Linked DNA regions of Homo sapiens. The protein of the gene in region 2 purifies or fractionates together with the protein of the main gene of each other region. This does not show direct contact. Each region holds a gene or a part of one and is shown on either strand. Other genes may lie near its edges.

Region 1 (3,653 bases), on a different chromosome or scaffold from region 2:
GCCGGGCTCAGTGGCTCATGCCTGTAATCTCAGCACTTTGGGAGGCTGAGGTGGGCGGATAATGAGGTCAAGAGATGGAGACCATCCTGGCCAACATGGTGAAAACCCATCTCTACTAAAAATACAGAAATTAGCTGGGTGTGGTGGCACCTGTAATCCCAGCTACTCGGGAGGCTGAGGCAGGAGAATTGCTTGAACTCGAGAGGCAGAGGTTGCAGTGACCTGAGATCGCGCCACTGCACTCCAACCTGGGCGACAGCGAGACTCCGTCTGAAAAAAAAAAAAAAAAAAAAGCTCAACCATTTTTTTTTTTAAAGAGACAAGGTCTTGCTCTGTCTGCAGGCTGGAGTGCAATGACGCAATCATGGCTCACTGCAGCCTCCAACTGCTGGGCTCAAGTGATCCTCTTGCTTCCTCCTCCTGAGTAGCTGAGACTACAGATGCATGCCAACATGTGTGGATAATTTTTTATTTTATTTTTTTCTGTAGAGACAGGGTCTTGTCATCTTGCCCAGGCTGGTCTCAAACTCCCAGGCTCAAGCGATCCTCCTGCCTCTACCTCCCAAAGTGCTGGGATTACAGGTGTGAGCCACTCTGTCTGGCCACTTCCATCATTTTTAAATGTACAGTTCAATGCCAGGCATTATTTTAAGCTCTTTATATATATTAGCTCATTTATATTCTTTTAATCTTCACAACAGTCTTTTTTTTTTTTTGAGACAGAGTCTCACTCTGTCGCCCAGACTGGAGTGCAGTGATGCTATCTCGGCTCACTGCAACCTCTGCCTCCCAGGCTCAAGCGATTCTCGTGCCTCAGCCTTCTGAATATGTGGGACCATAGGCATGAGCCACCAACACCGGGCTAATTTTTTTGTATTTTTAGGGCTAGGCTGGTCTTGAACTCCTGGCCTCAATTGATCTGCCCACTTCAGCCTCCCAAAGTGCTGGGATTACAGGTTTGAGCCATCACACCTGGCTTCACAACAGTCCTATGATTTGCATTTTACAGAAAAGAAAACACAAGTTCAGAGAGGTTAAGCTACTTGCCTAAGGTCACACAGTGGATGGGGGCAGAGGAGGGACTCAACTCCAGGTCTTCCAGACAGCTAAGTCAGGGGGTCTCAATCGCTTCTCTCTGCTCTCCTCAGCATTGCTTGTTGGTGAATAAATGAGTGAAGAAGCAAAGGTGAGAATGAGTGGATGAAGGAGTGAATGAGGAAATGAATGGTGAAAGGAATGAATGAATGAGCATGGGAACCCATGGCTGGGATGGGTGCTTCATAAGAGCAAGAATCTTGTCTGTGTGTTCTCTGCGGTATCCCAGGCTCCCAGGACAGGGCTTGGCACACATGAGACTCTCAGTAAGTATTGCTAAATAAATGCAAAATATTTAACTTCTCAGCCTGGCCAACATGGTGAAACCCCGTCTCTACTAAAAATACAGAAATTAGCCAGGGTGGTGGTGCATGCCTGTAATCCCAGCTACTCGGGAGGCTGAGGCAGGAGAATTGCTTGAACCTGGGAGGTGGAGGTGGAGGTTGCAGTGAGCCACATTCATGCCACTGCACTCCAGCCTGGGCGACAGAGTGAGACTCTGTCTCAAAAAAAAAAAAAAAAAAAAAAAAAAAAAAAAAAAAAATTATCATCTGCTATGGCAAGAGCACAGCTATCCAGCATGAACTCTAGTTGCTGGATCGTGGGGAGATACAACAGGTCCTGGGGAGGAGCTGGGGTGATAGAGGCATGTGGCAGGCTTGGGGGTTCCATAGAAGCACAGGGGGATCTCTTAGCAAACATGTCAGTATTTTTAACAACCTATATGTACATACCGACGCACACCTGTAATAACTGCTTAATGAATGAGCAAATGAAAAAATGGAGGCCGTGAGGCTGGGCGCGGTGGCCCACGCCTGTAATCCCAACATTTTGGAGGCTGAGGCAGGAGGATCAGTTGAGCTCAGGAGTTTGAGACTAGCCCGGCAGCCCGGGTAACATAGTGAGATCCCATCTCTACTCAAAAAAAAAAAAAAAAAAAAAAATTAGCCAGGTGTGGTGATGCGCGCCTGCAGTCCCAGCTACTAGGGAGGCTGAGGTGGGAGGATCACCTGAGCTCCGGGAAGCAGAGGTTGCAGGGAGGCGTGATCCCGCCATTGTGCTCGAGCAAAGGAAAAGGGGGATGATTGCCCCCTGTAGCCAGATGGCTTGAGGGGCTGGGGCCAGAGCGAGGGGGGAAATTCTGGGCACTGGAGAGCCAGAGCAGTAGTGCCCACTGAGGGCCTTGGCTATTTTGCCCAGACAGGATTTGGACAGCCAACAACGTGAACATCTTTACAGTCCAATATGCAAGAGAATGGGATACTACTGAGAATGGCTGGAGGGTGGGGGTCTGATTTCTGCCCCTTGCGCCCCTGTCTCTCCACTCCCACTCCAGGCTACGACTTCCCGGCCGTGCTGCGCTGGTTCGCGGAGCGCGTGGACCTCATCATCCTGCTCTTTGATGCGCACAAGCTGGAGATCTCGGACGAGTTCTCAGAGGCCATCGGCGCGTTGCGGGGCCATGAGGACAAGATCCGCGTGGTGCTCAACAAGGCCGACATGGTGGAGACGCAGCAGCTGATGCGCGTCTACGGCGCGCTCATGTGGGCGCTGGGCAAGGTGGTGGGCACGCCCGAGGTGCTGCGCGTCTACATCGGCTCCTTCTGGTCCCAGCCCCTCCTCGTGCCCGACAACCGGCGCCTCTTCGAGCTGGAGGAGCAGGACCTCTTCCGCGACATCCAGGGCCTGCCCCGGCACGCAGCCTTGCGCAAGCTCAACGACCTGGTGAAGAGGGCCCGGCTGGTGCGAGTGAGTAGTCCTGAGGGCTGGGCGCGCATTCTTGGAGGAGGTTTCCTCGGTCCTCTCCTACCAGTGCTGTGAGTCCCTGACTTATCAGGGCCCAGGTTAGTTAGTTCTCTTGAAGTTGGGTCATTCTGGCACAGAGTGAAGCCGGGAGGAAGAACTGTATGGAGAGACTCATTCCTCTGCCTTTGGATTTCTGTGTCAACTCCGTGTCACCCTGGCTTCTCTGTCCTGGTATTTCTATTTCTTCTTCCTCTTCCTCCTCCTCCTCCTTCTCTTCTTCTTCTTCCTCTTTTTCTTCTTTCTTCTCTCTTTCCTCCTCCTCCTCTTCTTCTCCCTCCTCCTCCTCCTTCTTCTCTTTCTTCCTCCCCTTCCTCCTTCCTTCCTTCCTTCCTCTGTTCCTCTCTCCCTTCCTCCCTCCTCCCTTCCTCCTTCCTTACATCCTCTTTCGTTCCCTCTTCTTCCTTCTTTTTTAAGAGATGGAGTCTCGCTCTCTTGCCCTGGCTGGAATGCAATGATGCAATCACAGCTCACCACAGCCTTGAACTCCTGGGCTCAAGTGATCCTTCCTCCTTAGCCTGCCCCAAGTAGCTGAGACCACAGGCACGTGTCACCACGCCCAGCTAATTTTTTATTTTTTGTAGAGTCGAGGTCTTACTGTGTTGCCCAGGCTGGTCTTGAACTCCTGCCCTCAAGTGATCCTCCCCTTTTGGCCTCCCAAAGTGCTGGGATTGCAGGCATGAGTATGTTGAATTTTTGAACTTCCTATAAAATATAGACAGACAAATACTCATTATTCTACCCTCTTTATTTTT
Region 2 (2,607 bases):
CTGTTTTAAAAAGAGGGATAAATGGAGAGGAAAGAAGGAAAGTTGTTAAGATACATAAGTATGCACAGGACAATACAAGAGAAACAATGTGTTTGGATGTCAAGGCTCTCCTTTCTGCAAGTGGCCAGCAGGTCACTATTGGCATCTATGGCCATGTGCCCTCAGCTAACACCTCTGCTAGTCAGGGTTTTGCCTTGTGAGATGACCAAATATTCATTCCTGACAGAGAAATGTCCTTGATAATCTTTTTGTGTGAGCGTGCCATGGTCATTGTTAATTTCTTTCATTTAACAAAATAATAGACTTTATTTTTTGAGCAGTTTTAGCTTTATGGAAAGATCGAGCAGAAAGTACAGAGTTCTCACATACTGTCACCTTTATCCCACCCCCAGTTTACATTAGGGTTCACTCTTTGTGTGGTACAGGTCTAGGAGTTTTGCAAAACGCATAATGTCATGTACCCATCATTACATTATTACCAACGTATTTTCAATCCCCTAAAAATCGCCTGTTTCAGAACTATTTATCTCCCTACCCATCCCCAAACTCCTGGCAACCACTGAGCTTTTTTGTTGTTGTTGTTGTTACTTAGTTTTTATTTCATAATCATAAACTTAACTCTGCAATCCAGCTAGGCATGGAAGGGAACAAGGAAAACATGGAACCCAAAGGGAACTGCAGCAAGAGCACAAAGATTCTAGGATATTGCAAGCAAATGTGGTGGAGGGGTGCTCTCCTGAGCTACAGAAGGAATGGGTCTGGTGGTGAAAATAAAACACAAGTCAAACTCATTAGAATTGTCCACAGTCAGCAATGGTGATCTTCTTGCTGGTCTTGCTATTCCTGTACCCAAAGTGCTCCATGGCTTCCACAATATTCACACGTTCTTTCACCTTGCCAAAGGCCACATGCTTGCCATCCAACCACTCAGTCTTGGCAGTGCAGATGAAAAACTGGGAACCATTTGTGTTGGGTCCAGCATTTGCCATGGACAAGATGCCAGAACCTGTATGCTTTCGGATGAGGTTCTCATCATCAAATTTCTCCCCATAGATGGACTTGTCACCGGTGCCATTAGGGTGTGTGAAGTCACCACCCTGACACATAAACCCTGGAATAATTCTGTGAAAGCAGGAACCCTTATAACGAAATCCTTTCTCTCCAGTGCTCAGAGCACGAAAGTTTTCTGCTGTCTTTGGAATCTTGTCTGCAAACTGTTTGATGGAGATGCGGCCCAAGGGCTTGCCGTCGACGGTGATGTCAAAAAAGATGACGGAGTTGACCATGGCTGATAGTACAGGGCTCACAGCGATGGCGGCGTCTGCAAAGATAACCACTGATCTTTTTACTGTCTTTATAGTTTGGCCTTTTCTAGAATGTCGTATAGTTGAAATCACAGTATGTACCCTTTTCAGACTGGCTTCTTTCACTTAGCAAAATGTCTTTGTTTTTTCTGTATCTTTTTGTGGCTTGATAGTTTTTTCCTTTTAGCACTGAATAATATTCCACTGTAGGAATATACCACAGTTTGCTTATGCAGTCACTCATTGAAGGACATCTTGGTTGCTTCCAAGTTGTGGCAGTCTTCATTTCTTTCTTTCTTTCTTTCTTTCTTTCTTTCTTTCTTTCTTTCTTTCTTTCTTTCTTCTTTTTTTTTTTTTTTTTTTTTGAGACAGAGTCTTGCTCTGTCACCCAGGCTGGAGTGAAGTGGCACAATCTCAGCTCATTGCAACCTCTGCCTCCCAGGTTCAAGTGATTCTCTTCCTCAGCCTCTGGAGTAGCTGGGATTACAGGTGTGCACCACCACGCCTGGTTAGTCTTCAGGAATATTTACAGGACTGTATAGAATTAGGAGCCATCAAAGGGGATCCCTGAATTCTTTCTGTTTTTCTTACAAATACCAGTTTTAAGGTCAAGATTTACTACCCCATGCAACAGTGTAGCCGCATTTTAAATTTTAAATTTTTGACTGTTTCTTTAAAGGTCTCAGGCAACCTAAAAGGCTAGATAGAAGTCTCTCATCCTCTAACGAAGGATGGATTGTAAAATGGAATACTGCTAAGACTCTCCCTTTGGGTACTAATTCTGCAAAAACCTAGAATCTCAGAGACAAGAGATAAGTATTTGGAGTGGATCATTAGATGTAATGACAAAAGGAGTCACTTCAACATTCATAACAAATATCAAAGATTGTTGTATTTTTTATATGGGAGACACCAGACAAGCTTATACTTAGTTACTAGTTCAGAGGATACACCACCACATCCTCTAGCATGAGTACAACCTTATAAGCCATTGTCTCCAGCTGGCACTGTGATTGAGTCTTTAATAAAATATTCACCATTCTATAATAATAATAATTTTGGTTAGTGATAGGATAAATGGTGGACCAGGTGAGTCCAATGAATATCTACTCATTTGTTATACAACAAGTTCTTTTAATAGAAGGATGTAGAACAGGATATTATGGCAGTATATATAAGGCATTCAATGTACCCGTGGAGAGTGGCGATCAGAGAAAAATGATGTCAGGTAAAGCAAATGTAATTCAAGGATAAAGGTAGATTCCATTTACAAAATTCCTTGTTGCCTTTATCATAGAGGAGC
Region 3 (4,222 bases), on a different chromosome or scaffold from region 2:
ATCTATATATAATAAATTGAGAGCCTCATACACTGATAATAGAAAAATAATACTAAAATTCAACTTACTTCAAACCAAACCAGCATAGTTGAATGGCCCCTTTGAAATCAAAAGAAAATATGCCAAGATTGAAAAATGACTTTCACAAAAACGTTCTGAAAGATTATCGTAATCTCATGAAAGGCAAAGTAAAACTCACATGTATTGCTCTAAATATATATGAACTAAATATATGCCGCCCCACCCCCCCCCCAAACAGTTTTCATAACAGGCTCAAAAAACATCTCCTTAAAAGACTTGTGCCAAGACACCAACAATTAGGAGGCAGAGAAATAAATCTCACCTGATTACTTGTCGGGTCACATTTGCCTAAAATGATAGCTGAGTCTTCAGCTATCAAGAGTGGCTCGCTTTTCTCACAGCTCTCCTGGCTGATGAGCGTGTCCCCATAGTTGGGCTGGGGGAAAATCAGGTGACTCTTCTGCGAGTCCGCAATGAGAGAGACCTCGTGGGAATAGGTTTGCAGGAAAGCCTGTACCCCGTCCACGCCTACAAAATGTGACGTGGGCATACCTGCCAACCCGCCTTCAGAAGCCTGCAGCAGGCGTGACTTATGCCAGCGCCACAGCCTGAGTGCCAGCAGCACGATGACAAAGACCAGGAAGATGCAGGAGACTGCGGCCACCGCCACCACCAAGTACAGCGAGAGGTCTGAGGTTTCAGAGTTAGCCAGAGACTCGAGGCTGCCGAGGTCCGCCAGGACTTCGGGGATGCTGTCGGCCACAGCCACGGTGAGCGTGACGGTGGCCGAGAGAGGGGGCTGGCCGTGGTCCTGGACGGCCACCACGAGGCTCTGCTTGAGCGCGTCTCTGTCCAGCAGTGCCCGCGCTGTACGCACCTCGCCCGTGTGCTCCCCCACCGCGAAGAGTCCCGGCTCGCTGGCCTTAAGCAGGCGATAGGACAGCCAGGCGTTCTGGCCTGAATCTTTGTCCACCGCAACCACCTTGGTCACCAGGTAGCCAGGTTCCGCAGAGCGGGGCGCCAGCTCCACGCCAGTGGAGCCGTCTGTGGGGAGGGCAGGGTACAGGATCTCGGGCGCATTGTCGTTCTGGTCCAGCACGAACAGGCTCAGCGACACGTTGCTGCTGAGGGGCGGGTCCCCGCTGTCACGTGCTATCACTCTCAGTTCTAAGTCTCGAAACTGCTCATAGTCGAAGGATTGTAGGGCATAGAGAACACCAGTGTTGGAGTTAATAGAGACATAGGAGGACAGAGGCACCCCCTGGACAGTGTCATCCGTCAGAGAGTAAGTGACCAGGGCATTCTGTTTGCTGTCCGGGTCGAGGGCGGTCACTGAGAAGATGGAGGCACCCCTGGGGTTGTTTTCGGGAATGTAGGCAGAGTAAGAGGAGTGAGGAAAAACGGGAGGGTTATCGTTGTCATCTGCCACATTCAGCCAGACATGAGTTTCTGCAGACAAAGGCGGGCTTCCCTGGTCTGTGGCTGTCAACGTTATATTGTAGCTCTGGACCAACTCCCTGTCCAGCACTCTGCTTGTTATCAATTTGTAATAATTTCCATAAGTCTTTTCTAATTTAAAAGGCAGGTGGTTAGGAATAAAACAGGAGACTTGACCATTTTCTCCAGAATCTTGATCTTGCACATTTAGAAGAGCAATCACTGTACCTGGAGGAGAGTTTTCCAGAATTGAATTAATAGAAGAGGTGATAGTTATTTCTGGAGCGTTATCATTCACATCCACAACAGTGATCAACATCGTCGTGGTGGTAAAGAGACCTCCACCATCTTGGCCTTGAATTTCCATCTCATAGAATCTATATTTTTCAAAATCCAGAGACCCCCGTACTTGAACTTCTCCAGTTTGTGAATCCAATTGGAATATTTCAGAAGCCTTGCTTTCCATGTTCCGAAATGAATACATTACTTCCCCGTTGATTCCCTCGTCTGGATCCGTTGCATTAACCATCAGCACCCGAGTTCCGGAGCTGATGTTTTCTGGAACACTCACGCGATATACGGACTGTGTAAACATTGGGATGTGATCATTTACATCGAGGACCACCACACGAATGGGAACTGCGCCCTTTCGGATGGGATCGCCTCCATCTAAAGCTGTGAGGAGGAGCAGGTGAGCAGCCTCTTTCTCTCGGTCCAGGCTTCCCTCCAGTACTAGCTCTGGATTCTTGGCCCCATCCGTTCTGCCCCGCAGTTGCAAGGAAAAGTAATTATTAGGGCTGAGCTGGTAGCTCTGGAGGGAGTTCACGCCCACATCTGGATCCCTAGCATTAGGAAGAGCAAATCGCGCCCCAGGAATTGCGTGCTCACTGACTTTTATCTCCACTTCGTCCTCCTGGAAGCTGGGGGCGTTATCATTAATATCTATTATTTCCACCTCCACTCCGTAAATCTTCAAGGTGTCTTCCACGAGAAGTTCCATATTTAAAAAACAGGAGGACACCGTCTCACAGAGCTCCTCCCGGTCTATCCTGCCTGCCGTGATCAAGCTGCCGCTTCGCGGATTCACAGCGAAAAGCTGTGTCTTCCCTCTGGAGACGATGCGGACTCCGCGCTTCGCCAGCTCCCGGGGCTCCAGCCCCAGGTCCTTGGAGATATTGCCCACGAAGGAGCCCTTTTCGGTCTCTTCTGGCACCGAATATCGGATCTGCCTGGCCCGGAACCCCCGCAGCGTCCCCAGGAAAATGCACAGCAGCAGCAGCAGCCGACTGCGGTCCCCGCGCTGTAGCCGATTCGCCATGGCAGGCTCTAAGCCGATATTCCGCGGTTTCTCGAGCTGGTTGGTTGTGAATCGGCTTATGTATCTATGAAGTCCTAGGCCGACTACATCCAAAATATATCAGAAAGCGAAGGAAAATACTTCTAAGTCTCCAGTGTCAGGATCTGTGAGTATCCATCTCATTCCGCTTTGTGTGGTAGAGGCGGGGGAGGGAGGGACTCAATGGCGCGCAGCTTCCCATTCCCTGATTGGTGAGCAGCGGCGCCTAGAGCCCATTCTTATTATTGCAACGACTAAGAAATTCCAGAAGAAATGATTACGCTCACCTTTGTGAATCACACGTATTTGTAGAGCTTAAAAACGATGATACACAATACTTACATTATGTGACGTTAAAACTTTACCAAGAACACCTGCGAAAGGAGTAATTATTAAAAGGGCTTGCTTAATTTTTAAAAAGTTTTCAAAATATTACTGGAGCTGAAAACTTGTAGGTTGTAGTTGGTTCCAATTGATTTTAACCGACTGAAAGGAACGACATTTCTGGAAGTGGAAATAATACGGTCCCGATAAAATCATCAGGTAGGATGCCTAACTATAATTCTTACAAGGTTCCTTTATTGAGTAAATGAAGATGAAATACTTGAGAAAAATTGAGTAGCATCAGGGTTTCAATTAAAATACCATGCCGTAAAAATATACCTGTATTTTATATTTTTAACCGAAAGGTATTTTACTTCATAAAAATGTCACCGGAGATTACCCATGTAGTTTGCTTTAAAATGTCTTTGAATAGTAGGAAGACTGAGGCATTTAATTTAAACTTTTGTTTTAATAATGATAACCATAAATTTGACCTATATTTTGCGAACTCTATGAAGAAGTTATCTAGAATCTTAAAATAATACCACTATATTGGAATATATTGGCATATTGTAATATAAAAAGGATTAAATACATTTTTAAATACTTACCTGTTTAAGAATCTTCTTATCTGCTTCAACGCTGGGAGTTAAAATGCTAGCCAGTAGCATGCTATCTTTGTTGAGGTTATCTTGTGTGGCTGGACAATGATCAACAGATGTGAAAAAATTAAATTCTGGATTCATTTGATCCCCAGGCACACAAAAATTATAGGCATAGGGCAACGTTCCCTCACTGTAGTTGGGGGGACCCACAGGTCCGGACTTGGAGCAGAGAACTGACTCAAAGCAGTCTCCTGCAGTAGGGCTGAAAGACTGTCGCAGGCGTAGAGCAATAGCTAGAATCACCGCGAGGAGAAAGAGCACAGAAATCAAGGCCAAGGCCACCACCAGGTAAAACTGCATCTCAGCCTGGGAGTCAGAGGGTGTGGGATGGTCGCTGAAATCCGGCAGTACCTCTTGCAAGCTATCTGCGAACACCAGGTGCAGCGTGGCAGTGGCTGAAAGGGGTGGCTGTCCTCCATCTCTTACAGCGACTAGCAGG

Evidence for each region.
Region 1: the proteins of PPIAL4G (region 2) and EHD2 purify together in Homo sapiens (affinity purification with mass spectrometry; one large-scale study listed by BioGRID and IntAct). This does not show direct contact.
Region 3: the proteins of PPIAL4G (region 2) and PCDHGA11 purify together in Homo sapiens (affinity purification with mass spectrometry; one large-scale study listed by BioGRID and IntAct). This does not show direct contact.

The regions. Positions count from the first base shown.
Region 1 is NC_000019.10:47,723,381-47,727,033, forward strand, and holds part of EHD2 (EH domain-containing protein 2), read left to right. Parts: intron 1-2,431; coding exon 2,432-2,844; intron 2,845-3,653. UniProt on the Homo sapiens protein: ATP- and membrane-binding protein that controls membrane reorganization/tubulation upon ATP hydrolysis. Plays a role in membrane trafficking between the plasma membrane and endosomes. Important for the internalization of GLUT4.
Region 2 is NC_000001.11:148,481,967-148,484,573, forward strand, and holds PPIAL4G (peptidyl-prolyl cis-trans isomerase A-like 4G), read right to left. Parts: upstream 1,337-2,607; 5' UTR 1,287-1,336; coding exon 792-1,286; 3' UTR 582-791; downstream 1-581. UniProt on the Homo sapiens protein: PPIases accelerate the folding of proteins. It catalyzes the cis-trans isomerization of proline imidic peptide bonds in oligopeptides.
Region 3 is NC_000005.10:141,419,782-141,424,003, reverse strand, and holds the start of PCDHGA11 (protocadherin gamma-A11 isoform 1 precursor), read right to left. Parts: upstream 2,954-4,222; 5' UTR 2,777-2,953; coding exon 344-2,776; coding exon of another isoform or gene 263-343; exon of another isoform or gene 1-262. Other genes in the region: PCDHGB7 (protocadherin gamma-B7 isoform 1 precursor), read right to left, coding at 3,730-4,222. UniProt on the Homo sapiens protein: Potential calcium-dependent cell-adhesion protein. May be involved in the establishment and maintenance of specific neuronal connections in the brain.